7 separate regions of the Homo sapiens genome follow, and all the other regions are linked to region 3. The links come from fine-mapping of genetic effects on gene expression. A gene starts in region 3. Each other region holds a variant in brackets. All regions are shown on one strand. Distances are between the middles of the regions. Region 1 overlaps GPD1L (glycerol-3-phosphate dehydrogenase 1 like). Region 2 overlaps CMTM8 (CKLF like MARVEL transmembrane domain containing 8). Region 3 holds the start of CMTM8 (CKLF like MARVEL transmembrane domain containing 8). Region 4 has its middle 26 kb from the start of CMTM8. Region 5 has its middle 48 kb from the start of CMTM8. Region 6 overlaps CMTM8 (CKLF like MARVEL transmembrane domain containing 8). Region 7 overlaps CMTM8 (CKLF like MARVEL transmembrane domain containing 8).

Evidence for each region. PIP is the estimated chance that this variant, and not a neighbour inherited with it, causes the effect. A credible set is the group of variants that fine-mapping cannot tell apart.
Region 1: its variant is the best candidate, but not a certain one, in a credible set for the expression of CMTM8 in whole blood (TOPMed, PIP 0.59).
Region 2: its variant is the best candidate, but not a certain one, in a credible set for the expression of CMTM8 in whole blood (GTEx, PIP 0.56).
Region 4: its variant is the best candidate, but not a certain one, in a credible set for the expression of CMTM8 in whole blood (INTERVAL, PIP 0.80).
Region 5: its variant is the best candidate, but not a certain one, in a credible set for the expression of CMTM8 in lung (GTEx, PIP 0.76).
Region 6: its variant is the best candidate, but not a certain one, in a credible set for the expression of CMTM8 in monocytes (Fairfax 2014, PIP 0.71).
Region 7: its variant is the best candidate, but not a certain one, in a credible set for the expression of CMTM8 in whole blood (TOPMed, PIP 0.56).

Annotation. Positions count from the first base shown.
Region 1 is chr3:32,118,434-32,122,433 of GRCh38, forward strand. All of the region lies in intron 1 of GPD1L (glycerol-3-phosphate dehydrogenase 1 like), which reads left to right. Among named protein-coding and RNA genes, the nearest start is that of GPD1L, 14 kb to the left of the region's middle. The variant T/C (reference allele first, on the strand shown) is at 1,994.
Region 2 is chr3:32,300,725-32,304,724 of GRCh38, forward strand. The region is part of intron 1 of CMTM8 (CKLF like MARVEL transmembrane domain containing 8); the gene reads left to right. Among named protein-coding and RNA genes, the nearest start is that of CMTM8, 64 kb to the left of the region's middle. The variant T/C (reference allele first, on the strand shown) is at 1,624.
Region 3 is chr3:32,236,699-32,240,698 of GRCh38, forward strand. It overlaps CMTM8 (CKLF like MARVEL transmembrane domain containing 8), which reads left to right and starts at 1,982. Exons shown (of 4, transcript NM_178868.5): 1 at 1,982-2,421. The coding sequence starts at 2,275. RefSeq lists a silencer at 1,786-1,995.
Region 4 is chr3:32,211,031-32,215,030 of GRCh38, forward strand. No RefSeq gene overlaps it. Among named protein-coding and RNA genes, the nearest start is that of CMTM8, 26 kb to the right of the region's middle. The variant T/TTGTGTGTG (reference allele first, on the strand shown) is at 2,300.
Region 5 is chr3:32,189,007-32,193,006 of GRCh38, forward strand. It overlaps the pseudogene RPSAP11. Among named protein-coding and RNA genes, the nearest start is that of CMTM8, 48 kb to the right of the region's middle. The variant T/C (reference allele first, on the strand shown) is at 1,835.
Region 6 is chr3:32,273,617-32,277,616 of GRCh38, forward strand. The region is part of intron 1 of CMTM8 (CKLF like MARVEL transmembrane domain containing 8); the gene reads left to right. Among named protein-coding and RNA genes, the nearest start is that of CMTM8, 37 kb to the left of the region's middle. The variant C/CT (reference allele first, on the strand shown) is at 2,028.
Region 7 is chr3:32,306,785-32,310,784 of GRCh38, forward strand. All of the region lies in intron 1 of CMTM8 (CKLF like MARVEL transmembrane domain containing 8), which reads left to right. Among named protein-coding and RNA genes, the nearest start is that of CMTM8, 70 kb to the left of the region's middle. The variant G/A (reference allele first, on the strand shown) is at 2,423.

The DNA.
Region 1 (4,000 bases), 120 kb before region 3:
CTGAGGTTCAGCATTTCTAACACGCTCTCAGGGATATATTCACTGCTGGTCCACGAACTGCACTTTTAATAGGATCTGACCATAGGCTGGGTCTTATGCTTGTTCTTGTGTGTTTTCTTGCCATCCTTTTTAAGTGTGTATGTTTTTTTAATTGTGACAAAATACACATAACATAAAATTTACCACCTTAACCATTTTTAAGCATACGGTTTAGTAGGGTTAAGAATGTTCACATTGTTCGTATTGAAAACAATGAAAATATTGAAAAGAATTAGATCTCCAGAATTCTTTTCATCTTGCAAATCTGAAACTCTATATTCATTAAACGACAGTTCCTCAATCCACTCTTTCCCCAGTCCCTGGAAACCACGCTTCTACTTTCTGTCTCTATGAATTTGACTACTCTAAGTACCTCATATAAGTAGAATTATACATTATTTATCCTTCTGTGTCTGGCTTATTTCAGTTAGCATAATGTCTTCAAGGTTCATCCATGTTGTAACGTATGTCAGAATTTCCTTTTTAAGGCTGGATAATATCCCATTGCATGTGTAGACCACCTTTTGCTTATCCATACATCAGTTGATGGACACTTGGGTTGCTTCCACCTTTTGGCAATTGTGAATAGTGTTGCTATGAACATGGGTGTACAAATACCTCTTTGAGACCCTGCTTTCAATTCTTTGGGGTATATACCCAGAAACAGAATTGCTTGATCATATGTTAGTTCTATTTTTAATTCTTTGAGGGACTGCCATTTGGTTTTCCACAGTGGCTGCAGTATTTTACAAATCTACAAACAGTATACAAGGGTCCTGATTTCTCTGCATCCTTACCAACACTTATTATTTTCTGTGTTTTTGATAGTAGCCATCTAAGTGGATCTGAGGTGGTATTATTTATTAATTGCACACTTGCAATCATATGGTATGTACAATTTTACATCCTTTTTGTTAAATGTAACATTCTATCATAAGCATTTTCCCCTACAGTTTGAATTTTGATAGAAAGCCTTTTCAGTCTCCTTCCTCTTTGAAGTGAAGTTGTTCATATTGATCTTTTTTCCTTTGTGGTTTCTTTCTTTGATTTTAAGCTTAGAAAGCTTCCCTATGTAGAGATCAAATAACATTCGCCAAGTTGAATCTATTTTTAAAATACTTCATTTTTAACATTTGCATCTAATACTCTGGCATTTGGTTGTTCTTTAAAAGCCCTTTGACTGCAAAGAATTACGCAAAATGTTAATAGTGGTTCTCCCTGGGTGGTGAGATTATTCATAATTTTTTTCATGTATTGCTCTTATGAGTGAAAAAGTACATGTTATTTAAACCACAAAGGACCACGCTTTTGCCCATGGAACCAGCCCGGGTCAGCTCTGGAAGAGATGGGGGCATGGAATGTGGAGAATCTAGCTGATGGTGTATTCTTCCTGGACCTCCGCTTCCTCCATAGTAAAAAGAAGGATGGACTGTAGGGTCCTTTCTGGCCTCAAAGAAATTCATCAGGTTTTTAGGCCCAACTTGATAGTGTCAACCTAAAATAATCAAAAAGGTCAGAATCTAGTTTAAAGAGAGTTTAATTAAGTGCGAAGGTTAAAAGTGAGCCTGCCGGCCGGACACAGTGGCTCACAACTGTAATCCCAGCACTTTGGGAGGCCGAGGCAGGCGGATCACAAAGAGATCAAGACCATGCCAGCCAACATGGTGAAACCCTGTCTCTACTAAAAATACAAAATTTAGTTGGGTGTGGTGGCGCGTGCCTGTAGTCCCAGCTACTGGGGAGCCTGAGGCAGGAGAATCGCTTGAACCCAGGAGACGGAGGTTGCAGTGAGTCAAGATCGCACCACTGTACTCCAGCCTGGCGACAGAGTGAGACTCTGTCTCAAAAAAAACAAAAAACAAACAAACAAACAAAAACAAGTGAGCCTGCCCAGAAAGAACAGATTCCAAGAAATTTGACAGTGTTCATATAGAAAAAGTTCAGGGAAATTTAA[T/C]AGGATTTCAGCATGTTTCTATGTAAGGCTTAATGCATAGTTACAATGATCTGATTAGTCAAGGTGGTCTTTCTGAGTGGTGGGGGAGGTATATTTAACATTCCACACAGCAGATGTAACCATCATTGGGTCTTGGACTGACGCTATCTGGTGCGAGTTAGGTACAGGACAATGAAGGAGGCAGTTAATGTACAACAAAGATCAGCAATTAGAAGCGGGAAGATCTGGTCTCTCCTAGTCATTTACAATGAGGAAGTCAAGAACAGTGGGGAAGAGAGTGAAGCAGAATTGCAAGCATGCAAGTTATACATAACCCAGTCTCCAAGCCCTAACTTCCCCCTTGGCATAATAAATTTAGAGGGTTCTGAAATTTTTATTTTTATTTAAAAACAGGCGTCCATTCCTTGGCTGAAGTAGTACCTCCCCAGCCTAATTAAATACTACACCTTTTTAGAGAGAAAGGGGTGAGAAGGCTGTGGACAGAGTGAATGGCAAAGGGTTAGCTGGGGCTGGAGGCGGGGAGGGCATTGCCAAGCTGGGGGTTAGGACCTCCTGCAGGCGGGTGTCCATCCAGCTGGGACTCAGGGCCGTAGAGCAGAAGGGTTAAAAGGGATACTGTGGGTAAGGTATTTGAAACAGTGCCTGACACCTGGTACGCACCAAATTAGTGCTGTTTTTGCCCACCCCGTCCCTTCCTTGCCTCTTGCCCCTGCCACGCCATTTTCTCCACCTTCCCTCCCTCCTCTTTTTCTCCTCCCTTAGTCTCCCTGATCCTTTCCATTTCTCTTGCACTGTCTCCTCTTCTCTCCTTCCCTTAACCTGTCTCCTCTTCCTTCTTTTCTCTCCTCTCTGGATGTGTTGGTTCTAGATAAAATCTGTGCCTATTGTTGGCCATGCCACCTGCTATGAGTGAGCTTTGCCCCAGGGGCCTTACTGCTGCCGGGAAGGTACCCAGCCTCCTCCCCGGGTAAGGCCCACTAAGCCTCAGAGCTCCGCCCTGGCTAGGCTTTCTTTATATATATATTTCTCTCTATATATATTTCTCTCTATATATATTTCTCTCTATATATATTTCTCTCTATATATATTTCTCTCTATATATATTTCTATGTATATATTTCTATATATATATTTCTATGTATATATTTCTATATATATATTTCTATATATATATTTCTATATATATTTCTATATATATTATATATATTTCTATATATATAATATATATATTTCTATATATATTTCTATGTGTATATTTCTATATATATATTTATATATATATTTCTACATATATTTCTATATATATATTTCTATATATATATTTCTATATATATATATTTCTATATATATATATATTTTTTTTAGGCAGAGTTTTGCTCTTTTGCCGAGGCTGGAGTGCAGTGGTGTGATTTCAGCTCACCGCAACCTCTGCCTCCCAGTTTCAAGTGAGTCTCTGTCCTCAGCCTCCTGAGGAGCTGGGATTACAGGCACGCGCCACCACGCCCGGCTAATTTTTGTATTTTTAGCAGAGACGGTGTTTTACCATGTTGGTCAGGCTGGTCTTGAACTCCTGACCTCGTGATCTGCCCGCCTTGGCCTCCCAAAGTGCTGGGATTACAGGCGTGAGCCACCGTGCGCAGCAGCACAGTTACATTTTTTTCTGTGCTTGTTGAAACAGCGTCAGTCTCTGTTTACCAGTCTCCAAGCTCCATGAGGATGGGGACTTGTCTGCGTTCATTCCCTTGTGTCCCTTGCACCCAGCATGGTGTCTGAAATTAATGGGTGCTCAATAAATATTTTCAATAAAAGACTCTACACTACAATAGGGCAAATATGAATTAGCAGCAAGTGCAGGCTTTGGAGACACTCAGATCTGGGTTTGAATTGCTAACCGTAGATGGACAGCATGACTTAGGCAATTCATTTATGCTCTTTGGGCCTCAATTTCATCATCTGTAAAATGGGGATAATGTGCACCTCTCTTATGGGCTGTAATAAAGATTTTTT
Region 2 (4,000 bases), 64 kb after region 3:
GAGGTGGGTGGATCACCTGAGGTCGGGAGTTCAAGACCAGCCTGACCAACATGGAGAAACCCCATCTCTACTAAAAATACAAAAAATTAGCTGGGCGTGGTGGCACATGCCTGTAATCCCATTTACTTGGGAGGCTGAGGCAGGAGAATTGCTTGAACCTGGGAGGCGGAGGTTGTGGTGAGCCGAGATTTTGCCATTGCATTCTAGCCTGGGCAACAAGAGTGAAACTCCATCTCAAAAAAAAAAAAAAATCTTTTAATTTTTTTCAACCATTTAAAAATATAAAAATCATCCTTCACTTGCAGGTCTTATAAAAACAAATGGCTGAGATTAATAAATTGCAAATGATTTTTGTCCAGTTAAGATGGGAAGGATTTCTTATGGCAGAAAAGGAGCATCAGGGGTACTGCTATATGCCAGGTAGGACATTAACCCGGTTTGTTTCTAAGTTTCCAGCCTTATCCCGGCATTCATCTTTCCACAGATTTTTTGCCCTACTTAGGTTTCTGTGCCATCCACCTTTGAGCCAGCTTTGTCATTCTGCTTAAGTTGACAAACTCATCAAGTTACAGAATCTTTAGCATATGCATACTCTATATGAGTCAAGAGCTGACCTTTTCAAAAAAAAATTATACTTTGACAGCTGTATATATATATATAAAGCAACATAAGACATTTTAAATAACAATATATAAATTTCTATCCTGTTGTTTTTAAAACTAGAAACAGGGCAATTAAATAATCATTCAATATATGGGCAAAAGGATTCCACCTTATCTTTCCCTCCTGCCAGTGGTGCAGAAAGTGGTCAAGGGAGAGTGGTGGATGAAGAGGGATAGGGGAGACACAGCCCTTGGGAGGGGTCCTCTGTCTACCTGGACTTGATCAAGCTGCAGTATGACTCATCCCGGCATCGGTGACATTGCACTGGGGATTCCTGAAATCTCATACAGTTTTCCATGAATGATTTTGGTTTCCATCCAGCAGTTCTTATCATTGATATGAAACAAAAAAAAAAAAAGAAAGAAAAATAGTATTTTTCAGAGGGCATTGGTGTGAAAAGGCAGGTGATGTCAGAGAACATTGGACTGAGTGTCAAGAGGTTTCCATTTCGAGTCTGGCTAACCAGCCATGTGACATTGGGTAAATCACAGTACTTTTGTTTTTGCATATGTCAAATGAAAAGCTTGAATTCATAGTCATTAATATTCTTTCTGGTGCTAAAATTTTTGCAACAAAAATAGAATAGACCCAAATTCCTTTCGGTGGAATTAAGAGTGATCACTGATTGCTGACTTTTTTTTTTTTCTTAATAAGAATAGCATAGGCCAGACATGGTGGCTCATGCCTGTAATCCCAACGCTTTGGGGGGCCAAGGCAGGAGACCAACATGGGCAATTCCTGTCTCTACAAAAAAAAAAAAATTTAATTAGCTGAAATGTGGCACGTGTCATAACTACTTGGAGGTGGGGGCTAAGGTGGGAGGACTGCTTGAGCCCAGGAATTGGAGATGCCGTGAGCTATGATTGCACCACTGCACTCTAGCCTGGGTGACAAAGACCTTGTCTCAGAAACAAAACAAAATACCCCCACAAAATAACTACCTTGAAGTTAATTCTTTAT[T/C]GGAACAAGTAGCACAGCATTGGATAGAAAAGTACAAAATGCAATTTTCTGCCTCTGTATGCTGTTCAGTTTATGGTTGTTCCCGACATCTTAGGTCACTTTCCAGTTCAAAGTTAGTTTTAAGTCTGAGAGCAAAGATTTCCTTGCCTAAGGGAGGATTAGATGAAACAAGGCTCCCAAAAGGCGATTGGCCCCCTGACAAAGCTGGAACAGTGGTGAGACAGATGGAAGTAGAAGAGAAGGAATCAGAGGCCCTTTTGAATTTAGAAGTGGACTTGTGAGTGCTAGGATTTCCCTGGGTTTTTCAAGCCCAGAGAAGAAATTGGAGCAAATTTCACAAGGCATGGGTTTTTCACCTATTTGAGGAGGTGAGGGATCTGTTGAGAAAAGAAGAAAGCTAAGGTCCCTCTCCTTGGAAACCTGTGCGCACACACACGAAGTGTATGAAGTACCTGTGCGCATACACACCAAGTACCTGAAGTCTGTAACTTCAGGATCTTTTAAGACCCATGGCATGAAGAGATTGGCTGAATTTGAACAAAGGAACCCTGGGGCATTAGATGTAGAACTTTGTTGTCTTTGGAGAGAGACCTGGTCTCACACTTAAATACCCAGGTGGCCCCATTTTGTTTTATTAAACCAATTTCGTCTCTTTGACCCCCAGCTCTTACAATCACATGCCCGATTGCACAGCTTTCTCCCTTCCAGCAAATCCTTTTTGATCACTATTACATAAACTCTAAATTGAGTGTCCAAATTGCAGGCGTCTAGGATCCAAAACAAATGTAGGTTGCAAATAAGTAAGGTTTTTAAAAAAGATCTTTGTCTTCTTAAGTTGCTGATAGTTACTGCTTGCTGGGAACTGTAGGCCTTTCCTGGCAAGATTTCTCAACATTCTCTTGAGAGCAGTTGTGTTAACAAGTTATGAAGATTACTTTAATGCTTTGCTTGGAATTCATTTCGTATCTGCATAAATCTTCAAGGCCATTATCATATCAGTGAGATATTTCTAGTATTTTTGAGAACTCTGATGCATCAAAATGTCTGAGTTCAGCTCGTTCTTAATGTGGTGACAGGGTCAAATGTGTTGGTTTAGATTCAGGTGTTTCGTTTTTGTTTTTATCTTATGCCTCCAAACACTTAAAAGTAAATTGGGTCGCTTATCTTCAAATTTGAGGCAGGAAATACTGTTTGGTTCTCATACTTTCTTCCCGTATGTTTCATTTCTGAAACATTCTGGCTTGTTTACACATTGATGGTAACCGAGCTTCCCCCCTCCCCCTCCCAACTGTAATTTTGAAAAATTTCAAATCTGCAGGAAAGTAGAACAATATAGACTCCTTCGCTTAAATTTTGTAGACTCCTCACTTACATTTGCCAGCTCACATTTTTTTACATCTGGTTTCTCTCGCTGTGTGAATGTGTGTGATCTTATTTTTGTTGTGGTTGTTGTTAAACCACTGGGAAGTTGCAGGCCTGACATTTATTCCCTAGGTATTTCAGTATGTATTTACCAAAAATCATTAAATAACTATTAAATTATTTAAATTAATTGTAATACCTTCATCACACTCAAGGAATTTAGCATCAATTCACTAATATGTGATGCAGTCCATATTCAAATTTTCTACTTTGTCCCAAGAATGTCCTTTACTTCAGCCTTTTGTTTGAGGATCCAGTCAAGGATCGACAGATTTCTTTTAGTTGCCATGTTTCTTTAGTCACCTTTAATCTAGAAAAATCCTCAGCCTGTTAGACCATTTGGGTAAGAATACAGCCCAGGTGGTGCTGGCATGTATCTGGTTGTGATCGCATGATAATTGGTTGTACCAAAATCAGTGTTGCTAAGTTTGGTCACTTAGTTACAGTAGCATCTGCCAGGTCTTATAAAAGGGACCCTATTCTCATGTAAAAGTTTGGGTGTTGGCAGGGGGCTGAAAATGGGTGTCCTATTCTGAGACAAGGAGAATGAATTTTCCCCCAACAGCCTTGGCCTCTCTGATTGTAACATCCACTGATGTTCTTCTCAGCTGTACTTTGATTTGTTGTTGGAGATGGCATGGGGGAAAGGAAAAGTATAAAGGAAATGTATTCCAGCAGATCTTTGTAGAATCAATTCCATTGCTCCTTTATTTGTATAGTTACAAGAAATGAATGATGTGAGTGCTCTGTATTTTCTAGATTGTCATACTCAATCTATATGAACAAAAGAAGCTTAGTTTACTTCTGTCTCTCCATAGAGAAACCTCCAAGGCAAATATTTGTCTGGAGTTAGTAGCCTGCAATGATTACCGAAGGTCCAGATGAGGTTATTAAAATGCCTGGTGTTTGCCCTGGTGGCACACACAAGATAAATGAGGCAGAATTCTTTCAGCTT
Region 3 (4,000 bases):
CATTTATTACATTGCAGTAGATAATCCAAGCATACACTTATGTCATTCATGATTTCCCTTGCAGAAAATTAGTATATTAGAGTGTCACCCCAGACCTTACCAAAGGTATTATGTAATATATGGTACATGCACATTTTACCTTTCTAAATTGAAAAACAAAATCTGAATTTAGAAATTCATCTGACCCCAGGAATTTTAAGAGAGGATTGTCCTTTGTTAATATTATGGAAATAAAGTTGTCTAGACTCCGTCTTTTACGTTCACTAAATGTCATGCATAATGCTTGAGTCTCCTCCAGCCATTTCATGTATGTATCTCTTATTTCCCCAAACTCATTAACAGTTTCTCTAAAGCAGCAGCTAACTTCAGCATGCATCAGTGTCTTTTGGAGGGCTTGTTCAAACACAGCTTCCTGGCTCCACCCTCAGAGTTTCTGATTCAGAGGGTCTGGGGGTGGGGCTTGAGACCTTGCATTTTTGATAAGTTCCCAGGGAACTTACCTGCTGTTGGTCCAAGGACCACTTTGAGAACTACTGCTCCAGGGAGAAGTGCTATATTTTAAATTTTAAGAATTTACCCACCAGCCCAAGGTGCTTACCAAATGCACATGGATGGAATCTCTCCAAATCTACATCTTTGCCATGCTTTTGAAGCCTTAACTTTTACTCCTGGAGGTCTTCCTGGCTAGGCCCTAGACTTAAAAGACACTAATTCCTTGTTTTATTTTATTAGATTGTCGTTTTTGCTTTCTTCTCAGCACACTTGATAAGACACTGTGAAGAAAATGTCCCTTCTGATCTCGTTTTTAACCTGTCTTGGAACAGATCAGCAGAAATGCCTTCACTGTGAATCAAAGATACCCTCGATTTATAGCCAAAGATTATTTCCTTTTCTTTTGGTGGCTTCCAGATAAAATGTTTCTTGCTACCCTTTCACAAAATAGAAGGAGGGACCAAGCGGAAGATAATCTTTTTGTTCAGAGGTCCATCTGTCAAAGCCTGCATTTTAGAGATGGCATTACTGAGGTCCAAAAACTAGAGCCACTCGCTCTGGGTCATACAGCCGATAAACGCACGCAGCCGAGCTCAGTTCTTCCCTGACCCTGTTACAAACTGCCTCACTAAATGAGGACCCCCATCCCCTTCCCATGCCAGGAAAGCACAGCTCATTTGTCCTAAAGTTAACATTACACAAATCACACCCTTCAAGCCTTCTTGAAACATTTTTTTTCCCCGAGGGTGACGGGACGGTTACGCTGATTCATCCTGGCCAGGGACCCCAAACATCTCCCCTCCTCCGGCCCAGGCGCCGTCACCCAGGCTCCACCGGTCCGCGGGACAGAGCCGCGGAGAGCGCCTGGAAGCGTCGCGCCCTCAAAGCCAAGCGATTAAGTTGGTTCCTCAAATTGTTCCCGACAGGAGGGGCAGGAAATAACACCGGGCTCTGGCGGCGGCCGCAGCAGGAGGGGGAGAAGAGCGGGCCGTCTCCCGGGCAGTGCTGGCGGCCTCTCATCGATCTCGGGTCTAAGGTCCGGCCGGGTCATCATTCCTGCCATTTCCACAGCATTCGAGGTACCACATCACCCCCTGCCTCGGTCGTCGCTCAGTCATTCCCTCCGCGCCGAGTCCTGGAGCGGCGGAGTCCCTGGAGGCCTGGGTTTCCTTAAGGGGCCCCAATGCCCGCAGCCCCCGACCCGCCCAGGTGGAAGGAAACAGGCTGCGGGCCTGGGCCAGGCGGGGCCTGACAGAAGTAAAGGCCGGGAGGGGGAGCGGAAGACGGCCAGAAGGACCCCTGCGCCCTCTCCTCCGCGCCGCCCGCCAGGCTGCCAACCCAGCCACCCTGGGTGCGACGCGGCGCCTTCTCCGCCGCTGGGAGTCGGGCAACAGGTGAAGAGGGCGGGCGTCCGCGGCGCCTCCGCGGGGCGGTCCCTCTCCTGCCCGCCTCCCGCCCGCCCCTCTCCCCGCCCCCTCCCCTCCTCCGGGCCTCCACCGCCTTCCCCGGCTGCCCGGCAGCCTCCCCTCGCTCGCTCTCCTCTTCCTCTAGGGCCCCAGCGCAGCTCGGGAGCCCGCGCACCGAGGCGCTAGGGGCACCGCGCACTAGAGGGACACCCGCCGCGCCTGGACAGCCCCCGGCGGGCGCCCCCCTCGCACCTCCTGCCCCGCGCGGGCCGCGCTCCCCTCCCCCGCGCCTGTGTCCCCAGGGCGCAGGGCCGCGCGTCCAGCCCCAGACCCGCCGGGGTCCCTGGGGACGCGCCAGCCCGGCAGTGGCTCGACGATGGAGGAGCCGCAGCGCGCCCGCTCGCACACAGTCACCACCACCGCCAGCTCCTTCGCAGAGAACTTCTCCACCAGCAGCAGCAGCTTCGCCTACGACCGGGAGTTCCTCCGCACCCTGCCCGGCTTCCTCATCGTGGCCGAGATCGTGAGTGCCGACGGGCCGGGGGTGGCGGGGGGCTCAGCTGGACCCCGGCGCGTGCTTCCGCCGTGCTTCTCGGGATGGAGCCTGCTCAGATCTTCCCGCGGGCTTTAGGGAACCGTTTTTGCTCAGCCTCGCCTTCTTCCCAAAGTGAAAGACTCTAAACAAGGTCCAGGAAACTCGGGCTGTCCTGGGAAGAAAGGGTTGTGATCCTCAGGATGTCTTGCTGTGGGAGAAATTCAGCTTGTTGGGTCCTCTCGGTGGCGGCGGCAGATCCTGGGAGCAGGAAGCTTGGCTTAGTGGCTATTGAGTTTGTGTTGAGTGTCAGAGACACCTGGTGCCTTTCTCACCTGATCTCCACGTGGATGGCCTCCTCCCTGAAAATAAAGCTTCCTAAGATCAGGGGAAGAGGAAAGGGCTTCTTTCTTTTCCTAATTATCTCCCTGGTAGTAACATTGAGGTGAGTCAGGAAAATTTTACTGAATAAAATCTGAGTGCCATAACCTATTTTAGGACCAAAGAGGTCTTTTGCATGGTGCTGTGCACATCCTGGTTTAGGCTCAGAACATTCCTGGGAAGGAGGCAGGGCATGGGCGTTCTTCTCTTCATTGGAGGGCATAGAGGCTGAAAACTCACGTGATCTTCCCAGAAGTCCCAGCCAGTCCTTCATAGCTGAGAAAGGACTGGAGTCCTGTCAGCAGTTAGAGGTGGTCACTGTTTGAGTCTTCTTCGTGTACCAGGATCTTGTCAAGCCCTTTAGATGTCCTCATACCCTCGTGTAATCCAACGACCACCCTCCCCTGTGAAGGCCTAGAGAGGGGACGTAAATCACACCGGTGGATGGTGAAGCATGGATTCAAACCCAGGCCTGCCTTTCTGCAGGGCCGTGCTCATAACTGCAAGCAGTTGAGACAGCTTCCAGCTGCCCCAGCAGTGCCCCTCTGTCATCTCTCACAGACTTTTGTTAAATATTTGGGAATTGAAAATGAGCCTATGTGGGAGTTAGAGAATGGGCACACCATCATGGTGCAGAAGTGACTGAAGACCTGGGCGGTTCCTTTGAGAAACCTGAAGTAAATCTTGTGTACCTCAAGTAGCTTGCTTGCTCCCCCAGTCTCAGATACCACCCGGACCTGCTCTATGAAGCCCCTGGTGGTCATAATGCACATAAGGTATGAGAAGTGTTGGCTTAGCTCCTCTCCCAGCTGGTTCCCTCAGCGAGTATTGAGGACTTCAGGAGACTCAAAAGCTGAAGGTATTGGAATCGCCTTGCAGGGCCTAGCTTTTAGGAGTTCAACAAATATTTGCTGTGCAAATGAAGGAGTTGGCAGGCTCCTCTGCTTCAGCAGCGCAAACAAAAGCTAAAATGACAGAGATGGGCCTTCTACCTTGGGGTGGATTTGGGCCAGGCATGAAGTATAACGCCTTTGGGTTTTTTTCTGATTTATTATCGATATGCTCTGTGTACTGCGCTTTTTCAGGAAATACAAAAGTGAAAGAAATGTAAGTGGCCCACAATCCCATTACTAGAAATAATCACTGTTGACATGTTAGCATGTATCCTTTTAGATTTCATTAAGCGTTT
Region 4 (4,000 bases), 26 kb before region 3:
TCTGGGTCAATAGATGGGTTTTAGACAATAACCAGGACTCACATTCCTTCTTTAAATGCTTTTTAAATGATTTGTTGACTGATATAATTTGAGTGTGTCTTCCCAAAAAATATGTGTTGAAAACGTAATCCCCAATGCAACAGTATTGGGAGGTGAGGCCTAATGTGAAGTGCTTAGGTCATGAGGACTCTGCTCTCAAGAATGGATTAAAGCCAATTCTAAAAGGGCTTGAGGCTATGAGTTCTATCCACTCTCTCCTTCTCACCTTCTATTTGCCCTTCCACCATGAGATGATGCAGCAAGAAGGCCCTCGCTAGATGCTGGCCCCTTGATTTTGAACTTCCCAGCTTCCAGAACCAAGAAATGATAAACTTTTTATTTTTCATTTTATTTAGTTTTTGAAATGGAGTCTCCCTCTGTTGCCCAGGCTGGAGTGTAGGGGCATGATCTCAGCTCACTGCAGCCTCCTCCTCCCAGGTTGAAGTGATTCTCCTGCCTCAGCTTCCTGAGTAGCTGGGATTACAGGTGCCCGCCACCACGCTGAGCTAATTTTTATATTTTTAGTAGAGACGGGGTTTTGCCATGTTGTCCAGGCTGGTCTCGATTTCCTAACCTCAAGTGATCCACCTGCCTTGGCCTCCCAAAGTGCTGAGATTACAGGGATGGGCCACCATGCTGGGCCTAAACTTCTGTTCATTATAAATTACCCAGTCTTATGTATTCTGTTATAGCATACAAAATGGACTAAGTCTGACCAAAACATTAAAGGAATTATAACTAAATTCACAAACGTGTAGGCAGTGACAACTACTATCTGGACGACAGTGCTTTAAATTTTTTTTTTTTTTTTTTTTTTGAGATGGAGTCTCACTCTGTGCCCCAGGCTGGAGTGCAGTGGTGTGGTCTCGGCTCATTGCAACTTCTGCCTCCCAGGTTCAAGTGATTCTCCTGCCTCAGCCTCCGGAGTAGTTGGGATTATAGGCGTGTGCCACCATGCCCAGTTACATTTTTGTATTTTTAGTAGAGACGGGATTTCACCATTTTGGCCAGGCTGGTCTCAAACTCCTGACCTTGGGATCCACCCGCCTCGGCCTCCCAAAGTGCTGGGATTACAGGTGTAAGCCACCACGCCTGGCCCAATAGTGTTTTTAAGACACCATTAGCTACCTCTCTACTTTTGAGATGTCAAACTGTTGGGGGAAAAAGTCTAATCTAGCATTGTATACCCAGTGCCCAGGACTGTGCTGCCCACCGGGTGACCTTCAGTAAGTATTTCTTAATTAAATAAATTATTTTTTTATCTTACAGATTCTTTTGACTTGCTATTGTGCTCTGCTTCATAGTTCTAGCTTATGAAATACACTGTCATTATGTTTGCCAAGCCCCAAACCACCTGCTTAATAATGATGAAACTGCATTTTGGGAATACTCTTATTACTGTGTTATTTGCATTCTTTGATTTTGCTAAATGCAACCTCAAGAGTGAAGGGAATGAGGTATCAAATGAAGGTGCCAAAATAAAACACACAGCTTTTGAGGAACTAATGTGGGTGAGGCCTTGAAGGCAAGTTTTTAAGTTCCAACTAAAATATACTGATGCCATCGTTCTTATGATTGTTACAGATGCTGCTGATTGCTGTTTGGAGCAATGCTCCAAAGTATATATGATGTACTATGAAGTACCTAGTACTTTAAGAAAAATTTATTTTCAGTCTCATTACCACTAAGTATAAATGTGTTTGGGCCATCAATACCATTTTTTACTCTAAATTCAGTTTATTCAAACTAGGAAGGTGTAGAATTTAAAACAATATTGTCCGTCAAAGCCCATTACATGTTATGTTGTTGACATCTACCCAGGCCTGTGACCTGATATCTTGTTACTTTCACTAATTAAAGTTGTTAATAGGTCCTTCTACTATATAGAAACCTTGTAGAAAAATTTTATGTGGGTATAAAGAATTCAAAGTGTCTCTTGTCATATTTACAGCAGGATTTTCCCAAAATGATGACTTGATGTTTCAAAAAGAAGTGAGAAAAAAAAAAAAAAACTTTCCTGGCTTGGATAGTATACTATGGTTATACCAGATGTAACCATCGGGGGAAGCTGGCTTCAGGGTTCCAAGCACCTCTTTGTACTGTGTTTGCAATTTCTTTTCTTTAAAATTAAAAATAAAGAAAGGCTCTTTTGGATCATTGGATTTTAGGATTATAACTGGTAACTGATTTATACTCCATTAACAAGTAAAGTGACACTGACCTCCAGAAAAAGTATCTTTGCATTGATGTATGCATGTGT[T/TTGTGTGTG]TGTGTGTGTGTGTGTGTGTGTGTGTCTGTGTGTGTGTGTGTACAAAGCATACTAACTTAAAAAAAATTTTTTTTTTGAGACAGGGTCTCTCTCTATCACCCCAGCTAGAGTCACTGCAGCCTCGACCTTCCAGGCTCAAGCGATCCTCCCACCTCAGCCTCCCAAGTAGTTGGGATTACAGGTACATGCCACCACATCCAGCTTATTTTATTTTTATTTTTGATAGAGATAGAGTTTCGCCATATTGCCCAGGGCTGCCCTCGAACTCCTAGGCTCAAGCCATCCGCCTATCTTCGCCTCCCAAAGTGCTGGGATTACAGGCATAAGCCACCATGCCTGGATTGTTTTGGGTTTTTTTCTTGTTTTGTTTTGTTTTTTTTTAGACAGTGTCTCACTTCGTCACCCAAGCTGGAGTGCAGTGGTCCAATCATGGCTCACTGTAGTCTCCTGGGCTCAGGTGATGCTCCTACCTCAGCCTCCCAAGTAGCTAGGATTACAGGCACACATTGCCATGCCCAGCTAATTTTTTATTTTTTGTAGAAATGGGATTTCACTATGTTGCCCAGGCTGGTCTCAAACTCCTGGCCTCAAGCCTCCTTGGCCTCCCAAAGTGGTGGGAATACAGGCATGAGCCACCACGCCTGGCCAAAAACCTTTTTTAATCTTGCTTAAATTAAAACATAAAATTATTGCCTGGGCACAGTGGCTCACGCCTGTAATCCCAGCACTTTGGGAGGCCGAGGTGGGTGGATCACCTGAGGTCACGAGTTCAAGACCAGCCTGGCCAACATGGTGAAACCCCGTCTCTACCAAAAATACAAAAATTAGCTGGGCGTGGTGGCAGGTGCCTGTAATCCCAGCTACTCGGGAGGCTGAGACAGGATAATCACTTGAATCCGGGAGGTGGAGTTTTTGGTAAGCTGAGATCACATCACTGCACTCCAGCCTGGCGAGTGAGCAAGACTCCATCTCAATAAATAAATAAATAAATAAATAAATAAATAAATAAATAAATAAAATTATTGTTACTTCTGGAGAGAAGAACAGAAAAGAAGCAATTTTCATTTCTTGGATTTCTTTATTGTTAGACAATGAGTTCTTACTGCTTTCACAATTTGGTGGTAAAAAGTGCTCACGGTAGACATTTCCTTAAACAGCTGTAAGACTCAAATTATCCAGTGACAGTTTTCCTAAATATCCTTTGTTATCAGAGGGAAATCTTATTCCCTTTTCATTGGTTCTGATATTTATGTTTTGGGAATAATTTCAGCAGAGGAATAAATTTATGAATCAAAACTACTATTTCTTCTACTCTACTAAATAAAAGTGAACTACATGATATTAAAACTGAATCTTAACATGCATTTCCCTAAGGATTCTAGACCTTTTCAGAAAGGATTAGTTATTATAATTCTATAAACTATCATTTTTATGTTTTCAAGATTAAAACATATTATTCTACAGCCACACGCAAGTCAGGCACTATAAATAGTTTTCTTTTTAGCATGTGATATCACTATAAATACTGAAAGATCTTAATACTTGTTGACTGCAAGGGAGATTTCATTTTCCGAACTTTGGTTTTGGAGTAGCAGATCCTGTTCCATAAGAAAATTTTGAAATCATTGCTGTTTGTGGAACACTCCCAGGCCTTGGGTGATACTTACCTCCTCCTTTGTTTTCCTCTGCCTCGTGTCTTC
Region 5 (4,000 bases), 48 kb before region 3:
GTAGAAGTGATGAGCACAGACACTCTTATCTTATTCCTGATTTTAGGAAAAAAGTATTTGTCTTCCACCATTATATATGATATTACCTATCGGTTTTCTTTTTGTAGATGCCCTTTATCAGGTTTAAGAAGTTCCCTTCTAGTCCTGGTTAGTGGAGTGTTTTTGTCATGAAAGTATGTTCAATTTTATCAAATGCTTTTCCTGTGTCTACTGAGATGACCATGTGGCTTTTTTCCTTTTTTCCATTCATGTGGTATATTACATGATTTATTTTCAAATATTGCCAACCTTGTATTCCTGGGATAAGTCCCACTTGGTCAGGGTGTGTAACTCTTCTATTTCACTGGTATTTTGTTAAAGGTTTTTGACTACATTTATAAGGGACATTGATCTGGAGTTTTCTTTTATTGAGTTGTCTCTGGTATCAGGGATAATACTGGCATCATAGAATGAGTTGGGAAATGTTCCCTCCTCTTCTATTTTTTGAAAGAGTTTGTGAAAAAATTGGTATTCATTCTTTTTCAAATGTTTGATAGAATTCACCGAGTGAAGCCATCTGAGTCTGGGGCTTTCTTTGTGAGTAGTTATTTGTTTGCTAATTCAATCTCTTTACTTGCTGTAATTCTCTACATAGCATTCATCTTGAATGCTTACACAATACTGTGTCAGGTACAGTGCTAGTTCTTAAATTTCTTTTGGGAGGTTTGGACACTAAGAGGAGGGGAAGGGGCTAGATGCATTCATTCATGGGGGTATTCTTTCAAAACACTTATCGAGTACCCCTGGCTGTGTTCTGTGCTCAGCCCTGAAACTACTAAGACCAACAAGGCAGCCACAGGATGAAGGAGTGAACAAGCTGATTTCAGATCAGAGTCTGGGTGGCCACCTGCCGAGTGTGAGAGGAGACCCAGCAGTGCTCACTGGTGTTGGAGTCGTTCTTGGCTCCAAACAAACAGTGGTGCCTCAGAGTCCTCTGGCACTTTGTAGGTTATAAAGTGCTTTCACTTGTAAAATCTCATCACAGTTGATCCTTAGAGGCAATTCAGCAAAGTTCATTATCCCTCTTTGCAAAAGATGAGAAAACCAATGTTCAGAGGTCAGTATGAATTCAAACTTTTAGGAAATGCTTCTCCCTTACTAGCCCCATGTAAGGCCCTAGGAGATAAAGATATGACAAGGTTCTTGCCTTCAAGGAGCTGTCAGTCTGAGACAGAAAGAGACAGGAAGTCAGAGAGACATAACAATCTATGATGGTCATCTCACAGGGTGAAATGGAGGCAAAGAGGAGGGGGTTCAGCAATGGTTTCGCCATGAATGTGACCCTTAAAATGTGGCTGGGAGCAACCTGGACATTACAGCAGGAAATAACAAAAGTCATTCAGAACTGGGATGACCATATGTCCTAGTTTCCCCAGGATAATATGTTTGCTTCTGTTGTCACAGTTTGAGTATCAGTAGCACCCTTTTTTCCTCTCAAAATACATGTTTGATATATGCATGCTTTCAAAGTATTTCCCTAAAAAATTGTTGGAATTATGAAGGAAAAAAATAGTAACTTTGCAGTAGAGAAATCTGGCAGATGCTTAATCCAGTAATGAAGATTAATATCTTCACAGATGGTACCAATGAACATCATGTGCCTCCTGTTAAGATTTGCTCAGAACTTTCCACGCTACCCACAGAGGGGTGCATACAGCATTGTTCTGGATTCCAGTCGTAACTTAAACGGAAACTTTCACAATGTCCGGAGCCCTTGATGTCCTACAAATGAAGGAGGAGGATGTCCTTAAGTTCCTTGCAGCAGGAACCCACTTAGGTGGCACTAATCTTGACT[T/C]CCAGATGGAACAGTACGTCTATAAAAGGAAGTGATGGCATCTACATCCTAAATCTGAAGAGGACCTGGGAGAAGCTTCTGCTGGCAGCTCGTGCCATTGTTGCCATTGAAAACCCTGCTGATGTCAGTGTCATATCCTCCAGGAATACTGGCCAGAGGGCTGTGCTGAAGTTTGCTGCTGCTGGAACCACTCCAATTGCTGACCGCTTCACCCCTGGAACCTTCACCAATCAGATCCAGGCAGCTTTCCGGGAGCCATGGCTTCTTGTGTTTACTGACCCCAGAGCTGACCACCAGCCTCTCCCGGAGACATCTTATGTTAACCTACCTACCATTGCTCTGTAACACAGATTCTCCTCTGTGCTATGTGGACATTGCCATCCCATGCAACAACAAGGGAGCTCACTCAGTGGGTCTGATGTGGTGGATGCTGGCTCGGGAAGTTCTGCGCATGCGTGGCACCATTTCCCGTGAACACCCATAGGAGGTCATGCCTGATCTCTGCTTCTACAGAGATCCTGAAGAGATTGAAAAAGAAGAGCAGGCTGCTGCTGAAAAGGCTGTGACCAAGAAGGAACTTCAGGGCGAATGGACTGCTCCAGCTCCTGAGTTCACTGCTACTCAGCCTGAGGTTGCAGACTGGTCTGAAGGTGTGCAGGTGCCCTCTGTGCCTATCCAGCAGATCCCTACTGAAGACTAGAGCTCTCAGCATGCCACGGAAGACTGGTCTACAGCTCCCACTGCTCAGGCCACTGAATGGGTAGGAGCAACCACTGAATGGTCTTAAGCTGTTCTTGCACAGGCTCTTAAGCAACATGGAAATAAGGCTGATGGAAAATAAACATCAGTTTCTAAAAAAAAAAAAAGAGAGAAAGAAAAAATTTGTGCTGAGAAGGGGCAGGAACAGTGGCTCACGTCTGTAATCCCAGCACTTTGGGGGGCCAAGGCAGGCAGATCACATGAGGTCGGGAGTTCAAGACCAGCCTGGCTAACATGGTAAAACCCCATCTTTACTAAAAATACAAAATTAGCTGGCCGTGGTGGCGTGCGCCTGTAATCCCAGCTACTCAGGAGGTTGAAGCAGGAGAATTGCTTGAACCCGGGAGGTGGAGTTTGCAGTGAGCAAGGATCGCGCCGCTGCACTCTAGCCTGGGCAACAGAGTAAGACTCTGTCTCAAAAAAAAAAAAAAAAAATGTGCCAAGAGGGACACAACAGCACTTTTGTGATATTGTTGCCAGAAATATATAAACTGAATCTAATCACTAAGAAATATCAGACAAACCCCAACTGAGGGACATTCCACACAACAGTTGAGCCACAAAACATATCAAGGTCATGAGAGACAAGAAAGACCAAGGAACCATTCTAGATTAAAGGACACTAAAGAGAAACGACAACTAAATGCAACACATGGTACAAGATTATATCCTGAATGGAAAAAAAGTACATCAGCAGGCCGTGTGAAATCTGAAGACTGTAGATTAGATAACGGCACTGCTATCAATGTAGAATGTCCTTAGGTTTAGGAACTACACATAGAAGTATTTAGTGCTTTTTCAAAGTGCCACAGTTTGGATGATAAATGGTGATGGTGTGGTCTCCCTTCCCAGAACCCAGTGAGAACCCAGCCCTCTCCACTCCCAGGCTGTGGACCTGTCACCATCAACCACCTCAGATGGCCACTCAACTCCTCACCACTGAGAGGGCATTCAGATGAGCCAGGGGCTGGTATGCCCTGGGACACACAGGACCCCTTGTCAGCACCATGCCAACCTGTCCACCCACAAAGTGTCTCCGTTCCTCTGGCACCTTAATTCCCTAATAAGGTCTCAGCCAAGTGAAACCACCACTCAGCTTTTCCCAACAGTCAGAAGTAAGAGTCTCAAACAAAGGAAAAAAAACAGGAGAAAAGTTGGCCTTTTTGTGGTCATTTCCGCTTTCTTGTTGGGTGGGCCGAGGCCTCCTCAGACCTGATTCTCTGAATGTGTCCTATGTGGTCTGTAGGCTAAATGGTTAGTAGAGAAACTGTGTTTTTCTTCCAACTACATCCTCTCACCTGACTTACAGGTCTCTTAAAATCAGGTAATCCTCTAGGACCAGAATATGAGATGCAGACATCTTGGGCAAGCTAATAATTTGGCATTCCCTTAAACTGATGTTCCTTA
Region 6 (4,000 bases), 37 kb after region 3:
GGGAAATGTCCAGAATAGGCACATGCATAGAAACAGCAAGTAGGTGAGTGCGTTAGTGCGTGCTGGGAGAGGGAGGAATGGAGAGCTATTGCTGATAGATATGGAGTTTCTTTTGGGGATGATAAAAATGTTCTGAAATCGGATAGTTGTGGTAGTTACATACCTCTTTGAATAGTCTAAAAATTACTGAATTCTACACTTTAAACGGTGAATTTTATGATGTATGCATTATATCTTGAAGTGGTTTTAAAAAAAGCTGGAAGCTTAAGAGTCCTCAAGGTTTAACAAACTCTCAGGGTGGAAACTGGTTTTGGCATTTGATGACTCCCAGGATTCTTGTTTTATTTAATTTTTGGCTTCTTGGGATATTTTCTTTTCATGCCAGCTCAGCAACATGTTTAAAAATGTTTTAGCTGGGCACGGTGGCTCACATCTGTAATCCCAACACTTTGGGAGGCTGAGATAGGCGAATCACTTGAGCCTAGGAGTTTGAGACCAGCCTGGGCAACATGGCAAGACCCGGTCTCTACAAAAATTACAGAAATTAGCCAGGCATGGTGGTGCATGCCTGCGGTCCCAGCTACTTGGGAAGCTGAAGTGGGAGGATTGCTTGAGCCCAGGAGGTTAAGGCTGCAGTGAGTAGTGATCATGCCACTGCACTCCAGCCTGGGTGACCCTGTCTCAAAAAAAAAAAAAAATTTCATGTTTTACCCATACTTGTTTCATTTGGGAGGATACCCAGTCTGTCACAGTGCTAGAAATTGAAGTCAGAATTCCTTTAATTTTTTATTTTAAAAAAGTTCAAGGCGCTAAGAAAAGTTGTAAGGACAGTATAGTGACCTTCCTCATACTTTCACTGTAATTTCTGAAATGTAAATATCCTGCTTCATCCTTCCTCCTTCCTGTCTGTCTGCTTCATATTTTATGGAACCAATTGAGAGTAGGTTGCAGACATCACACTCCTAAATACCCTAGCTATTCCAGCATGCATCTCTAAAGGACAAAAGTATTCTCCTGCATAACCACAGTGTAACTATCATTCTCAAATTTTACCAAATTGTCCTAATAATGTTCCTTATATTCTTTTTCCCTGTCCAAGATAGAGCACAAGATCACATATTACATATAGTCATCATGTCTTCTTTAGTGTCCTTTAGTCTAGAATACTCAGTCTTTGTCTTTCATGACCTTGACAATTTTGAAGAATCCAAGTGAGCTGTTTGGGGAATGCTCTGCAAATTATGTGTGTGTGGTGTTTCCTCATGAGTAGATTCAGGTTATGTGTTGTTGGCAGAAATCCCACTGAAGTGATGTTTGTCCTTCTTAGTACCATACATCAAGGGGCTTGGGATGTCAGTGTATATTGTGATTAGTGAATAAAACTATAATCACTTTTCTTTTTTAAAAGACAGAGTCTCACTCAGTCGCCCTGGCTTGAATGCAGTGGTGCAATCATGGCTCACTGCAGCCTCAACCTCCCAAGGCTCAAGCAGTCCTCCCACCTCAGCCTCCCAAGTAGCTGGGACTACAGGTGTGCACCACCACACCTGGCTAACTTGGGTGTTTGGTTTTTTTTTTTGTGGAGACAGGGTTTTGCCATGTTACTCAGGCTGGTCTCGAACTCCTGAGCTCAAGCAGTCTACCCATCTTGGCCTCCCAAAGTGCTGCTTTTCTGCAAGCTAAATGTGATCTTTTTCTGAGCAGAATGACACAGAATTTGGAGACAAACAGACTTGGCTTTGAGTCTTGGCCCTGCTGCTATTAGCTCTGTGATCTTAAGTGAAATATTTAACATGTTAAAGCATCTGTAAAATATGTCTAATAATACCCACTTCTTAAGATTATTGAAAGAATCAAATGCAAATTCATGTAAATTGTTTAGCACTGGCGCATTGTAAGAACTCATAACCCTTGTTCTGGGGGAGATGATAGTATCCAAATGGCATGGGGGCCGCTCTGTCCCTCAAAGGTATTGGTGAAATCGCTCAGAATCTGTGTGAGGAGCACAAAGGCCCCCCATGTACTTC[C/CT]TTTTTTTTTTTTTTTTTTTTTTGGGGACAGAGTCTTGCTGTGTCACCCAGGCTGGAGTGTGATAGTGTGACCACAGCTCACTGCAACCTCCACCTCCAGGGCTCAAGCAATTCTCACGCCTCAGCCTCCAGAGTAACTGGGATTACAGGTGTGCATCACCATGCCTGGCTAATTTTTGTATTTTTAGGAGAGATGGGGTTTCGCTATGTTGGCCAGGCTGGTCTTAAACTCCTGGCCTCAAGTGATCTGCCTGACTCAGCCTCCCAAAGTCTGGGATCACAGGTGTGAGTTACCACTCGTATGTACTTCAGTTAATTCCCAAAGAGCCCGTATTCTCTTGCCCTTTTCTGCCATCTCACCCACCTCCTTTATCCTTTGCTGTCATCCATCTCTGGTGTCCGTAAGAAGCTCACTGGTCCCAGTGGTGGGTTGGTTTTAGATGTTGACCAATGACGGGTACAGAGGCTTTTAGAGAATGCAGACCGACCTCCTATTCCATTCTTCTCCCCTTCTGTTTTGTCTCCCTTCCCTCCTGGGTTACTCGTCCTCCTCCTCTCCAAATCCTTCTCCTTCTGTTGTTCAGGGAAACTCTCTCCAGCTCCTACCTCCAAACTGTGTATCTTAATTCAGTGAGGGGGTGCAGAGAAAAGACTTCTCACCAAACCAGAAGCAGCTCCCTAGAGGGCAGTGGGCCTTATAAACAGGAACTTCTTTTCCTGTAACATGATTGTTTTTATTCTCATTGTGCAACAGCAATGCCGTGGATATTTCCTTGATGTTTATTTTGACTTGAGAGGATAGCAAGTGGTTTGAACTTGTATGAGAAATACCTTCATGCTGGCACTGCTTGGCTGGCAATTAGAGTAATTGCCTGTGGCTAGCCATGGACCTTTGCATGGGTGCTTTATCTGAATCCAGAGGAGAAAGCTGGGCTCAGCTGAAATTGCGCCACACAAGATCTTTGTTCTTTGGAGGGGAGTATTAGCTGGGGCCCCAGGCAATGCTGATGCCACTTTGGTTGTTTTCTTGTAACCCGTGTCGTCAATGGTTCCCACAAAATGAGCTTTGGATGTTGCACCTTCTGTGTCTTCCTTTATGCCACCTCCCACTCCTCCTTCATGAAGCTGTTTGTCTGGATGAACTTGTTTGGTGAGGCTGCCAGACCTTCCATATCAAACTGAGGGATGCCTTTTTCACCTGCTGTTTTCTTGCTTCATGATTCTAATATCTAGCCCTGTCTCCTGAGAAATTTTTTTTTTTTGAGATGGGGTCTCACTCTGTCACCCAGGCTAGAGTGCAGCGGCACAATCATAGTGCCCTGCATCCTTGAACTTGGCTCAAGGAATCCTCTTGCCTCGACCTCCCAATAAGCTGGGACTACAGGCACATCCCACCATCCCCGGCTAAGTTACTATTTTTTTTGTAGAGATTGGGGTCTCACCATGTTGCCCAGGCCAGTCTTGAGCTCCTGGGCTCAAGTAATCCTCCCACCTCAGCCTTCCACGTAGCTGGAGCTACAGGTATGCTCCAACACTCCCAGCCCTGAGAAATTATTTAGTCTTGAAAAGGAGAGAAAGGGAGAAGAGAAAGGAACAGAGTTTAATCCTGATAAAGGCTACTGGTGTCCAGGGAGGCCCTACATGGTGAGGCTGTGGGCAAGTAAGGCCCCACGGTGGTTGCTGCTGCTGACTTAGAGGTTTTGTCTGTCCATTTTCCAAGGATTCTCCCTTTGTCTTTCTTTCTTTTTTTATTTTCCTTTTTTTTTTCTTTTTTTGTTGAGACAGAGTCTCACTATGTTACCCAGGCTAGACTCAAACTCCTGGGCTCAGGTGATCCTCCTGCCTCAACCTCCCAAGTAGCTGGTATTACAGGTGTGTGCCACCACATCTGGCTTATTCTCCAGGGAGTGGGACTGCATTTGAGGGTGATGAGAGTTTGCGGGAACTGTGTTGTGTTGTCCAAACTCAAAGGA
Region 7 (4,000 bases), 70 kb after region 3:
ACTCATGTTTTAGAGGGATTATCTTGGCAATAGTGTGAGGGTTGGAAGAGACGGGTACTACATTAGGTCCTTGGGTGCCTCATTGGAAGCTGACTTAGGCCAGCTGAGAATCTGAATTAAGGTCATAAAAATGGAGAGAAGATGCCAGGCACAGTGTCTCACGCCTGTAATCCCAACACTTTGGGAGGCCGAGGTAGGTGGATCACGAGGACAGGAGTTTGAGACCAGCCTGGCCAACATGGTGAAATCCCGTCTCTACTAAAAATACAAAAATTAGCTGGGCATGGTTGTGGATGCCTGTAATCCCAGCACTTTGGGAGGCCGAGGTAGGTGGATCATGAGGACAGGAGTTTGAGACCAGCCTGGCCAACATGGTGAAATCCCGTCTCTACTAAAAATACAAAAATTAGCTGGGCATGGTTGTGGATGCCTGTAATCCCAGCTACTCGGGAGGCTGAGGCAAGAGAATCACTTGAAACCGGAAGGTAGAGGTTTTCAGTGAGCTGAGATCGCACCACTGCACTCCAGCCTGACCGACAAGAGCGAAACTCCATCTTAAAAAAAAAGAGAAGGTAGAATCAACCTGACCTGGTGGCTGACTGGATGAGGGAAAAGCAGGAGTCTAGGATGACTTCCTGGTTTCTGTCTTGGGTAGGTGGGGAGATGGTGTTGGCATGAGTTGCTGGGAATGAGGGAGAAAGAACAGATCCTCGGGGAGATGATAAGTAAGTCCTTTTTGGGCAGCATTCAGTATAGGAGACTGTGGAGTGGCAAGGCAGAGATGGCCAGAGAGCATACTTGCATGTGTAGGTATGTAGCTTGAAGAGAAGTCGAGGTTAAAGATGAAGATGTGGGAATTTCCAGTCAATGGGAGGAGGTGACTGCTAGGGGTGGGTTTGTCTAAGGCAATGGTTCTCAAACTTTAGCTGCATCAGAATCACCTGGAAGGTTGTTAAATCGGAGCTCCCCAGGCCCCACCCCCAGAGTTCCTGAGTCAGTAGATCTGGAGTGGAGCCATAGAATTTGCATTCTAACAAGCTTCCAGGTGACGTTGATGTTGCTGGTCTGGGACCACACTTTGAGAGCCAGTCTGGGGCAAAAGTACAAATGGAGAAGGCCCTGGCAGGCCATGTTCAAGGAGTGGGCAAAGGGAAATAAGTCAGCAAAGGCATTTAAGAGAGTTTAGGCTCTGAGAAGCCAAGAGAATACTGAGATACCCAGTTAAGACCATTCCTTTAAGCGGCTCAATTCAAAAGGAGAAGAGAGCAGAAAATAGAAGACACCACAGGGTGTTGAGGATTTTTCCTTACCATTTAATTGTTATCATAAGAGACTTAAGCATCCTTTCAGGATGAAAGAGTCACACCTCCTTCGCACTCTACCGACTCCATGTCTCTAATTTAGCACAGGGAGGCGGAGACATTCAGACTAAATGGTCCTGCTTTCCACAGCATCAGAAAACACAGAAGCAGATTCATGTCCACAGTGTGAGGGATGCTAGTGATATATTGTGAAGAAATAAAAAATCAAGCTACAGAAAAATATATTGAGTTGTCTTTATAGAGAAAAACAATTATGTGAAGTCCCCCTCCATATGTCTGCATGGTTATGCTTAAAAGAAAACAGATTTGCAGGAGAGCTCTTGAGCACACAGCTAAGCATTTCCAGCCCGCAGTTTCTTCTCCAGAACTTAGCTACTTGGATGGGACAGTGGAGAGTGCACTAGAGTTGGAAAGGGCACTGGCATGAGGAGATCGGGGCTCTATCATCGTTCATGAGTTCAGCATGACTTCACCTCTCTGTGTCTCAGTTTCTCCATCTGTAAAATGGGACTAATTATGGTACCTACCTCAGAATCATGATGAGGATTAAATAAGAATACATGGAAAGCCCTTAGAACACTGCAAGTTATGTATGAGGTACTCAAAATAGACATAATCTGCTCTTAATGTATTTTAATATGAGTTAATAGACACAATGACGCTTAGTGAACTTTAATATATATTATCCATTAGATCCTATGGTGCAACTGTCACATGAAAATAAGGTGGTAACATCTCTAGGAACCTAAGGTTCAAAACTCAGAATTTGGGGTCACAGCAGCCCTACCATTAGAGATGCTCCTTCCTATGCTGGAAAGTCATCGTGGCAGCTCTGTATCAACCATGACCAAAAGGGATTGGCCCCTGTCTTCAGACACCCATCGTCCTTGAGGTTATGGCACTATGAGGTTGGGAGAATCAGGAGGTTTGAAAGGTCATTGGATGTTTCTTAGTGAGAACTGGGTGTCCTGGGGAGTGCTGAGTCTGGGTCATATGTACGCATGTGTACCAAGTTGCTCATCTCCAGACAAGCATCCTTAACACACTCACTGCTGGTTCACAGAAATGGGTGGAGGGTGGTGGGGCAGAGCATTGCCTGG[G/A]CCTTTCTAGACTTGGTGCTGTGGGAAGACCAGCTGATTTGGGTTTAAACTTGGAAGGGCTCAAGCATGGCTGAGCTCTCAACCAATTTACCAATTTTTTTTTTTTTTTTTTTTTTTTCGAGACAGAGTCTTGCCCTGTCGCCCAGGCTGGAGTGCAGTGGTACAATCTCAGCTCACTGCAACCTCCACCTCCCGGGTTCAAGTGATTCTCATGTCTCAGCCTCCTGAGTAGCTGGGATTACAGGTGTGCACCACCACGCCCGGCTAATTTTTGTATTTTTAGTAGAGACAGTGTTTTGCCGTCTTGGCCAGGCTGGTCTCGATGTCCTGACCTCAGGTGATGCACCTGCCTCGGCTTCCCAAATGCTGTGATTGCAGGCATGAGCCACCATACCTGGCCAACCAATTTTTTTTCTTATGCCCCCGTGCTGGACTCTTGTGTCCATGTAGTGTTCCAGACTTATAGAACCTAGGTGTCTCACTTTTCCTCAAAGTCGGTCATGCTTTCAGTAACTTGGCTATTCTGATTGAGCCTGTGGTTCATCAGAAGTCCAGAACAGATGTTCATACCCTGTGTTAGCCCTGTCTGTGCTCTTGGGGTTTATGATTTCCTAAGTCACAGTAGGGGATGGGAGCTTTATGCAGGGAGGCCCTCTCGTACTGCGGGCATCCTGAACTTTCGATGGGAATGTCTGTTCACTGCCCCCAGGCATCAGATGACTGAGTTCAGTCACCCTCAACCTTGCCTGGTCAGCCCTGCTTTCTGCAGGACCATTTGAGGTTCTCACAGCCAGTCTTTATTTTCACAGCTCAGTTTTTAGAAAAGAGGAAGCAAATTAAGGACATCTCAAAATGAGACTAAGTGAACACAGGAGATCCATCCATTCTGATTTTTACTGTTCTCATGTGTAGAAAGGAGTAGTGGGGCTGTGGATGATTTTTAAAATTGTGGTTTTTTTTTTCTGTAAATCGAATTTATCAAGGCTAAAGTGTGGCTTTGAAATTAGGTACTCAACTGTAGGGACAAATTTGGGAGATGGCTCTCCAAAGGAATCCCATCAGATTCCAGCGTGGCAGAATTCTAGAGCAAAGGGATTTTGCTGGCACTGTCAGGCTTCAGCTTAAATTTACAGTTCAGCTGTGTTTTTGCTCCAAGAAAAAAATATACCTGAGCTGTAGATACACTGTCTGGAGATGCTTTAGAGATCTCCCATCCAGTAAATAACATCTTAATGGGAGGCCTTGTCCTTGCCAATGAGGGGTGCCAAAGGAAGAAATGAGTTCAAGTAAACTAGGCCGGACTTAAAAATAGCTGTTTACTACTTTCTCCTAGGGTTATTTTCCTGCAGCGCGAGGAAGAAATCATACTGCGAGGCTCAACACAGCAATCGTGTGTGCCATTTCCTCCCAGGAACCTGAGAATTTCTCTGCCAGGATTATCCTTATGGTCAGCTATGGGCTCATGCTTTTGAGTGGTGCCAGGTGCAACTCTGAATGTCTAAATAAACTAGGAAATACTCTGACTTGTTTTATAGGATTGGTTTGCATTTTCAGGTTATACAAGTATAAAGAATTGTG